2 linked regions of the Homo sapiens genome follow. The protein of the gene in region 1 interacts with the protein of each later gene in a pairwise test. Each region holds a gene or a part of one and is shown in the gene's direction. Other genes may lie near its edges. The genes, in order: PCDHB5 and CACNA1C.

Region 1 (4,339 bases):
AAAAATGGAATAATTAATCTTTCAAAATACATCATACAAGAATATTTTCATGACCTTGGAGTATGTGAACATTTAAATAGAACACAAAAAAATGCTAATCATACATGAAACTTATTGACAAATCTGACTAAAGGTAAGAAATTTTATTCATCAAAGACACATAATAGACTTGAAATAAAAACCATAGAGTGGGAAAAGATATTTGCAATACATATATCTTAAAAAGGACTTATGCCCAGAATATATGAGAAACTTCTGCAGATCAATAAGCAAACAGGCAAATGCCTCCCCCCAAAAAAGTAAAAAGGTTTGCATAAGCCCTTCACAAGATTGTATCCTAATGGCTGATAAACATGAAAATGTGCTCAAATTGTTTAATCATCAGGGAAAATGCTAACTAAAATTACAATATCATATCACCATACACTAACCAGAGTGGTTTAAAATGGAAAAGATAGCATCAAATGTTGACAAGAATGTGGAGCAACTGGAACTCTCATACTTTGCTGGTATTAGTACGACTACTTGAGAAAACTTTCTCATTATCTGCTAAAGCAAAATATATGTGCACATCTTAATGCATAGCAATCCAACTCCTTTGAATATATTCAACATAAACACATATATGTGGTCACCAAAAGACTAGTACAAGGATGTTTATACCAGTACTACCCCAAAGAGCTTAAACCTGGAAAACAATGTTCATCAACTGGAGAATGAATAAATAAATCATAGTATATTCATACAACAGAATGATATAAAGCAATGAGAATAAAACAAATAAGAACAAGATGCCACAGATCAATTTGCTGAACATAATATTGAGGAGAAGAAGCCAGACACACGAGAGTAACAATCTATAACTCCATTTGTATAAAGTTAAAAAAAAAAAAAGCAAAAAAAACCTATGACAACAGAAGTCAGGACAGTGCTTATCTTTTGGGGAGAGGGTGGTAACCAGACAATAGCAGGTGGGGACTTGGGTTTGGGTAGTATTTTTAATCTAGGTTCTACTTACAGGAGTGTGTTCACTTTGCGAAAATTCATTGAGTTATACACCTATGATTTGTGCCATTTTCTGGGTGTTATTGGTGTTTACTTCAAAGTGAAAGTAATTTTTCTTAAACTTTAAATTTCTATAGATATTCCTGATCACTTATTTAATATAATCAAATAAGAAACACCAAACAAAGTGTATTTGTGTACTCAAGGGTACTTTTATGGAGATTAATATATAATTTTAGTTTTTTTCTCAAAAGTATTTTCTCACTGAAAATTAACTCCACAACATTTATTTAGAACTTTCAGCAACTAAGAGCTGGAGATACCATCGGGAGAGCTTATGTGACAAAAGGGTATGGATACACGTCAGTTAGAATTTAGGATGAAATGGCAAATACTATATGCAATAGTAAATTAGGACGCCTGGTGGCGCTGCAGGCTAAGAGTGTGGATAGTGGGCTCTGCGGATAACTCAGACGCCATTAAGCTGGGGAATCCAAACTCTAAAAGAAGGACGCATTTTAGGTAAGATCTAGTGGCTAGATCTTCAGGGTGGGCTTCGTTCTTGTGGAAATCAGTCAAGAAAGATCGGATTCGCGGTTATTTATGCAAATCATCTGGGTGGATTGTGTACGGAGTTAAACTGCGCCTTCTGGACCGGGTCTGAACAATGGAGACTGCGCTAGCAAAAACGCCACAGAAAAGGCAAGTTATGTTTCTTGCTATATTGTTGCTTTTGTGGGAGGCTGGCTCTGAGGCAGTTAGGTATTCCATACCAGAAGAAACAGAAAGTGGCTATTCTGTGGCCAACCTGGCAAAAGACCTGGGTCTTGGGGTGGGGGAACTGGCCACTCGGGGCGCGCGAATGCATTACAAAGGAAACAAAGAGCTCTTGCAGCTTGATATAAAGACCGGCAATTTGCTTCTATATGAAAAACTAGACCGGGAGGTGATGTGCGGGGCGACAGAACCCTGTATATTGCATTTCCAGCTCTTACTAGAAAATCCAGTGCAGTTTTTTCAAACTGATCTGCAGCTCACAGATATAAATGACCATGCCCCAGAGTTCCCAGAGAAGGAAATGCTCCTAAAAATCCCAGAGAGCACCCAGCCAGGGACTGTGTTTCCCTTAAAAATAGCCCAGGACTTTGACATAGGTAGCAACACTGTTCAGAACTACACAATCAGCCCAAATTCACACTTTCATGTTGCTACGCATAATCGCGGAGATGGCAGAAAATACCCAGAGCTGGTGCTGGACAAAGCGCTGGACCGGGAGGAGCGGCCTGAGCTCAGCTTAACACTCACTGCACTGGACGGTGGGGCTCCGCCCAGGTCCGGGACCACCACAATTCGCATTGTCGTCTTGGATAATAATGACAACGCCCCCGAATTTTTACAATCATTCTATGAGGTACAGGTGCCCGAGAACAGCCCCCTTAACTCCTTAGTTGTCGTTGTCTCCGCTCGAGATTTAGATGCAGGAGCATATGGGAGTGTAGCCTATGCTCTATTCCAAGGCGATGAAGTTACTCAACCATTTGTAATAGACGAGAAAACAGCAGAAATTCGCCTGAAAAGGGCATTGGATTTCGAGGCAACTCCATATTATAACGTGGAAATTGTAGCCACAGATGGTGGGGGCCTTTCAGGAAAATGCACTGTGGCTATAGAAGTGGTGGATGTGAATGACAACGCCCCTGAACTCACCATGTCTACGCTCTCCAGCCCTACCCCAGAAAATGCCCCGGAAACTGTAGTTGCCGTTTTCAGTGTTTCTGATCCAGACTCCGGGGACAACGGTAGGATGATTTGCTCCATCCAGAATGATCTCCCCTTTCTTTTGAAGCCCACATTAAAAAACTTTTACACCCTAGTGACACAGAGAACACTGGACAGAGAGAGCCAAGCCGAGTACAACATCACCATCACTGTCACCGACATGGGGACACCCAGGCTGAAAACCGAGCACAACATAACGGTCCTGGTCTCCGACGTCAATGACAACGCCCCCGCCTTCACCCAAACCTCCTACACCCTGTTCGTCCGAGAGAACAACAGCCCCGCCCTGCACATCGGCAGTGTCAGCGCCACAGACAGAGACTCAGGCACCAACGCCCAGGTCACCTACTCGCTGCTGCCGCCCCAGAACCCACACCTGCGCCTCGCCTCCCTGGTCTCCATCAACGCGGACAACGGCCACCTGTTTGCCCTCAGGTCGCTGGACTACGAGGCCCTGCAGGCGTTCGAGTTCCGCGTGGGAGCCACAGACCGCGGCTCCCCGGCGCTGAGCAGCGAGGCGCTGGTGCGCGTGCTGGTGCTGGACGCCAACGACAACTCGCCCTTCGTGCTGTATCCGCTGCAGAACGGCTCGGCGCCTTGCACCGAGCTGGTGCCCCGGGCGGCCGAGCCGGGCTACCTGGTGACCAAGGTGGTGGCGGTGGACGGTGACTCGGGCCAGAACGCCTGGCTGTCGTACCAGCTGCTCAAGGCCACGGAGCCCGGGCTGTTCAGCATGTGGGCGCACAATGGCGAGGTGCGCACCGCCAGGCTGCTGAGCGAGCGCGACGCGGCCAAGCACAGGCTGGTGGTGCTGGTCAAGGACAATGGCGAGCCTCCGCGCTCGGCCACCGCCACGCTGCACGTGCTCCTGGTGGACGGCTTCTCCCAGCCCTACCTGCCGCTGCCGGAGGCGGCCCCGGCCCAGGCCCAGGCCGACTCGCTCACTGTCTACCTGGTGGTGGCATTGGCCTCGGTGTCGTCGCTCTTCCTCTTTTCGGTGCTCCTGTTCGTGGCAGTGCGGCTGTGCAGGAGGAGCAGGGCGGCCCCGGTCGGTCGCTGCTCGGTGCCCGAGGGCCCCTTTCCAGGGCATCTGGTGGACGTGAGCGGCACCGGGACCCTATCCCAGAGCTACCACTACGAGGTGTGTTTGACCGGAGACTCAGGGGCCGGCGAGTTCAAGTTCCTGAAGCCGATTATTCCTAACCTTTTGCCCCAGGGCGCTGGTGAAGAAATAGGGAAAACTGCTGCCTTCCGGAATAGCTTTGGATTAAATTAGAGATCTCGTGATGACGCGTTGTTTTCTGCCATTTATCCCAAACTTTTTCAGATCTAGAATTCGAGAGTGTCATGGACAAAAATTTCACCTTGAGATTGAGCTTTTATTTCCCTTTTTAATGGATTTGTCTGTTGAACTTCATGCTGTCCAAGTGTTGAAAAGTCAATTTTATTTCATTGCATTTATTTACATAGTGTCATTCCAAATCCATGCATGCTGTTGATTTTCCTGAGATTTTTTTCTCTTCTTGTTGGTATTTGTTGTGATAAACCACCTTAA
Region 2 (3,817 bases), on another chromosome or scaffold:
CTAGGGTGTCTGGGAGGGTTTGGGGAACAAGGTCATCAGGGTAGTCAGTTACTCCTTGTGGAGCTGAACTGAATTTAAGTTGGGATTGTAGGGACTGTAGGAGAGAAGTTTGGGCCTGGAGCTCAGGAGTCGGACCGAGGTTGAAAATAGACCCTTCCTTCCCTGGAAGCCGAGGGAACTAGAGGAAGGGTTCATCTGGCTGAAGCAGAGGGTGAGGAAAGCGGGGGTTAACTGGCAAGAAACCCAAACCTCTCAGCCCCTCCCCTCCCCAAAACCCCACAGAACAGTTCTCTGCAAAACACCTTCACTTTAAAATGGGCTTCTTGTGCTATACCCTGTGTGTATAGGGGGCAAGGGGCTAGGCTCTGGTTCGTTAAAGGGTTTGTCAAACATAGAATAAATGTAATGTCTCTTTGGGAATTTACTTTCTAGGATCAGGACATTTTATGGGTAAAGGAACCTTAGAGACAATCCTCATTTCCAGTTGAGAAAACAGAGGCCCCTAAAGGTTCATGGAGGCAGGGATGTAACTAAATACAAGGTCTTCAGTCTCTTCATCCTCCTGCCTGTACCACACTTGGTGCTGGCCCCCTGAGAGAGCATTGTTAGTGCTTCTGGCTAAATTTTGCTTGGTAGATCTTTCAACCTCTCTATTCTTCCTCCCCCTGCCTCCACCTTTGTACTGCCTTAAAATAATTTCTGCGATGTTAGATTTAGGAATGGAGTTGGAAGGGTGGGGTGGGGGAAATCTATCATTGGAAAGGTTTAAAAACACTTTCTTAGGCTACAGAGTAGAAGTTCATACATGTCCACAAGAAACTCCTGCAAAATTCAGATCACGATTTTGTCTGCAAACAGATCTGCCTCTAAGCCTTTTTTATTTGCTCACTTCCTCTCGGCCCCAATCTAGGCTTGTTTCAGCCCCTTTGCGAGAGTGGGATGGGGATGGGAAGCCGGGCTGTGCTGTGGGACTTCCCTGGTGAGCTGCTGGGATTCTTCATGGACCAGCTGGCATTACCAGTAGCTGGGGTATAGACACACAGATCAGCCCCAGGGTAGAGACTGTGAGACAGGCTGCCACAGACTCCACCTGAGCTGGGCGACCAAGGGCGTCTTTCTGCTCCCATGTCAGGGTTGGTCTCCTAGGACCCCCGGCCTACTCCCAGGAGACATTCCCAGCAGTGGTGGTAGACTCAGCCCATGGAAGAGAATCACTAGGACCTGCCTCTGACATTCCCATCTTCCTTGAAGTGTTCATTGGCTGACTTGTTTCATACTCTTTCAAGTCATCTCTGAGAAACTGGAAGGCCTCTGAGGCTGACTCGGTCTAGCTTGAAGACGGAGGCATGAGCCAGGCTCATGCTTAGAGATGTGGCTTTTGAGTTCCCTGGAGGAAGCCATCATTTCAGAACATAGTGTTGTGATAATTTCATGAAATATTCAAGCTGCCAATTTGCCAACAGGGGTTTCTTTTAATACACTCGGCTACACTTGGTGTTGCCCACTTGAACCTAGCTAAAAGGAAAATAAAATAATCTTGTCTCCTGTCCTTTAGAGAACCAAGCCAAAATCTAGACAGTGAATGAATGTTCTTCTCCATATTGCCTGTGGGCAGAAATGTTGACTTGAGTACTCAATTAAGCTCTATTTACTTTATAACCATTGTGTCATGTACAGTCATTTATATTCCTTTCTTTCTTCCAAAATAATCTACGTTGGGCTAAAACCTTTCAAAGACATTAACAAAAGTAACAAAGTAAATAGCTAAAGAATAAATAAGGCTGTAGGCTAGAGAAATGACTTGGGTCTTGGGTCACATTCTTTGACTTCATCTCTTTCTCTGAGAGTTCAGAAGGAATCAAATCCCTTTTTTTTTTTTTGTCTGTAAAGTGGAGATAATAATCCTTAGCCAATTCACTTCGCAGGGCAGCTGTGAGGATCCAAATAGGAGAATGAGTGTATATCGCTGTTCAAACATCAGCTACTCTTATTCTCCCCATCAGCGAGCAGAGCACCAGAGTTTGGAAAAGCAACGCCATGAAGTAACATTCACAGCATTTCAAACAACTTTGGAGGTGTTGTGGGAGGGCTGACATTATTCAATATTTTAAAGGTGAAAATGTAAAACAAAGAGAAACCAGAGTCTGAGGTGGTCTGGCTGATACCAGAATAATCAGGGAGGAAGTGAACCATTGGTTGAGATGGGCCTGGTATTTTGCCCTCCAGAGAGTCTAGGAGCCTGTGGCCAGTAGGCTCCCAGGACGGTGGAGCCATGTGCACTGCTGGCACTGCTGCTGTTTCCAAGCTGAGGGTGAGGACATGGGGATGCAGGGTATCCGACGCCTGGCAGCTGTCCACCTGCCATGCTGCTGTCCCCTCACTGCCACCACACATGGCTGCCTGGCTTCGGCCTCAAGTCCAAAGCCACGCTGGCCTGAAGTCCTTTCATGGCCTGAAAATAGGGCCATTGAGGGCAGGAAGAACACCACCTGGGCAACCAATGTCTCCTCACTTTTGAACGTGAATTCCCCAAACCTAAACCCAACTTCCCAGTACAGGAGGACGGGCTGGAAAATAAAACTTTGCTTCAAAAGTAAACTTTGGGTTTGGAAAATAAACTTATTTATTTTTCATAGCCAAAATGTTGCAGGTTTGGAGATAGAGGGGACAGTTCTGTGTAGCTCCCTAAGACACTGATCAAAATAGGAAAGAGCTTTAACATTATAGTCTAAGTGACAGGATTAGTTTTAGTTTCCCAAAGCAAAAATAATCCCATCATCAAAAAGTATGCTGGGAAACTTTCGCACTTTCGCATTTGTTTGCACCTTGTTCTACCCCCAGCTCTGGTCCTGTGATCTGTGGAGCCATATATGTTTTAATTTTTCTCTAAAGAAAAAAAGCTGTATTGAGGTATAACATCTACCTTGTTATAATTTTAAAATAGAGCAAGAGTAATAGCCACCATTTATTGAATGCCTAGCATGTGTTAGACAATGTTCTTGGTGCTTCATGTGCTTAATATGTTTTATCCTTACAGTAATCCTACCACGTGGGTTTTAATTATATTTTTTAGATAAGGAAACTGAGGACCAAAGTCTTAAGCAATGTGGCCACAGCCACCCAGACAGTGTTGGGGCTGGGAATTAAATTCAGGTCTGTCGGACTTTCAAAACATTTGCTCTTTCTGTTACTTCTCCCCATGGAGAACAGTAGAAAGAGAAACCCACTATCTCTCTATCCTGGGAAAATGACCTTGTCCTTGCCTTCTGGAACCTGGCTTAGATTTGCCTTGTGGAAGCTCAGAGCTGGAATCCTTGTTCTTACTTGATGGCTGCATGTTGTCGTGGTACCCCGCCTCCCCTCCTGGTCCCGTCCTCTGGCTTTCTTTCCCCTTATTCCCAGGGTTTCTGCCAGGGCCCTCCTTGCTTCTTCACATCTCCTCACAGGCCTTCACAGACCACCTAGGTCAGTACACCTTGTCTCCCGGGGGACCCATTTGTGGCATGGCCTTGCTTCACCACCCATTCTTGGAATATTTCCTCAGTCACTCCCTCCAGGAAAATAGACACTCTCCATTCTCAAACGAGATTCCCGTGAGTCCCGGGGACCATCCCTGTAAGCTGAGCTCTCCAGACTTCATGCATTATTTATTTATTTATTTTGAAATAGCAGCTTTGTTGAGGTATAATTCGCATACCGTAAAATTTACCCTTTTGATGTGTATGATTCAGTGGTCTACCTACTTCCCCAATATTTTCATCACCCGCAAAAAATACCCTTTACCCATTGGTAGTCACTTTTCATTCCCCTCTCTCTC

The links.
Region 2: the proteins of PCDHB5 (region 1) and CACNA1C interact in binary tests that used the Homo sapiens proteins (3 or more experiments, as listed by UniProt).

Annotation. Positions count from the first base shown.
Region 1 is NC_000005.10:141,133,763-141,138,101, forward strand, and holds the start of PCDHB5 (protocadherin beta-5 precursor), read left to right. Parts: upstream 1-1,443; 5' UTR 1,444-1,672; coding exon 1,673-4,060; 3' UTR 4,061-4,339. UniProt on the Homo sapiens protein: Potential calcium-dependent cell-adhesion protein. May be involved in the establishment and maintenance of specific neuronal connections in the brain.
Region 2 is NC_000012.12:2,059,264-2,063,080, forward strand, and holds part of CACNA1C (voltage-dependent L-type calcium channel subunit alpha-1C), read left to right. Parts: intron 1-3,817. UniProt on the Homo sapiens protein: Pore-forming, alpha-1C subunit of the voltage-gated calcium channel that gives rise to L-type calcium currents. Mediates influx of calcium ions into the cytoplasm, and thereby triggers calcium release from the sarcoplasm.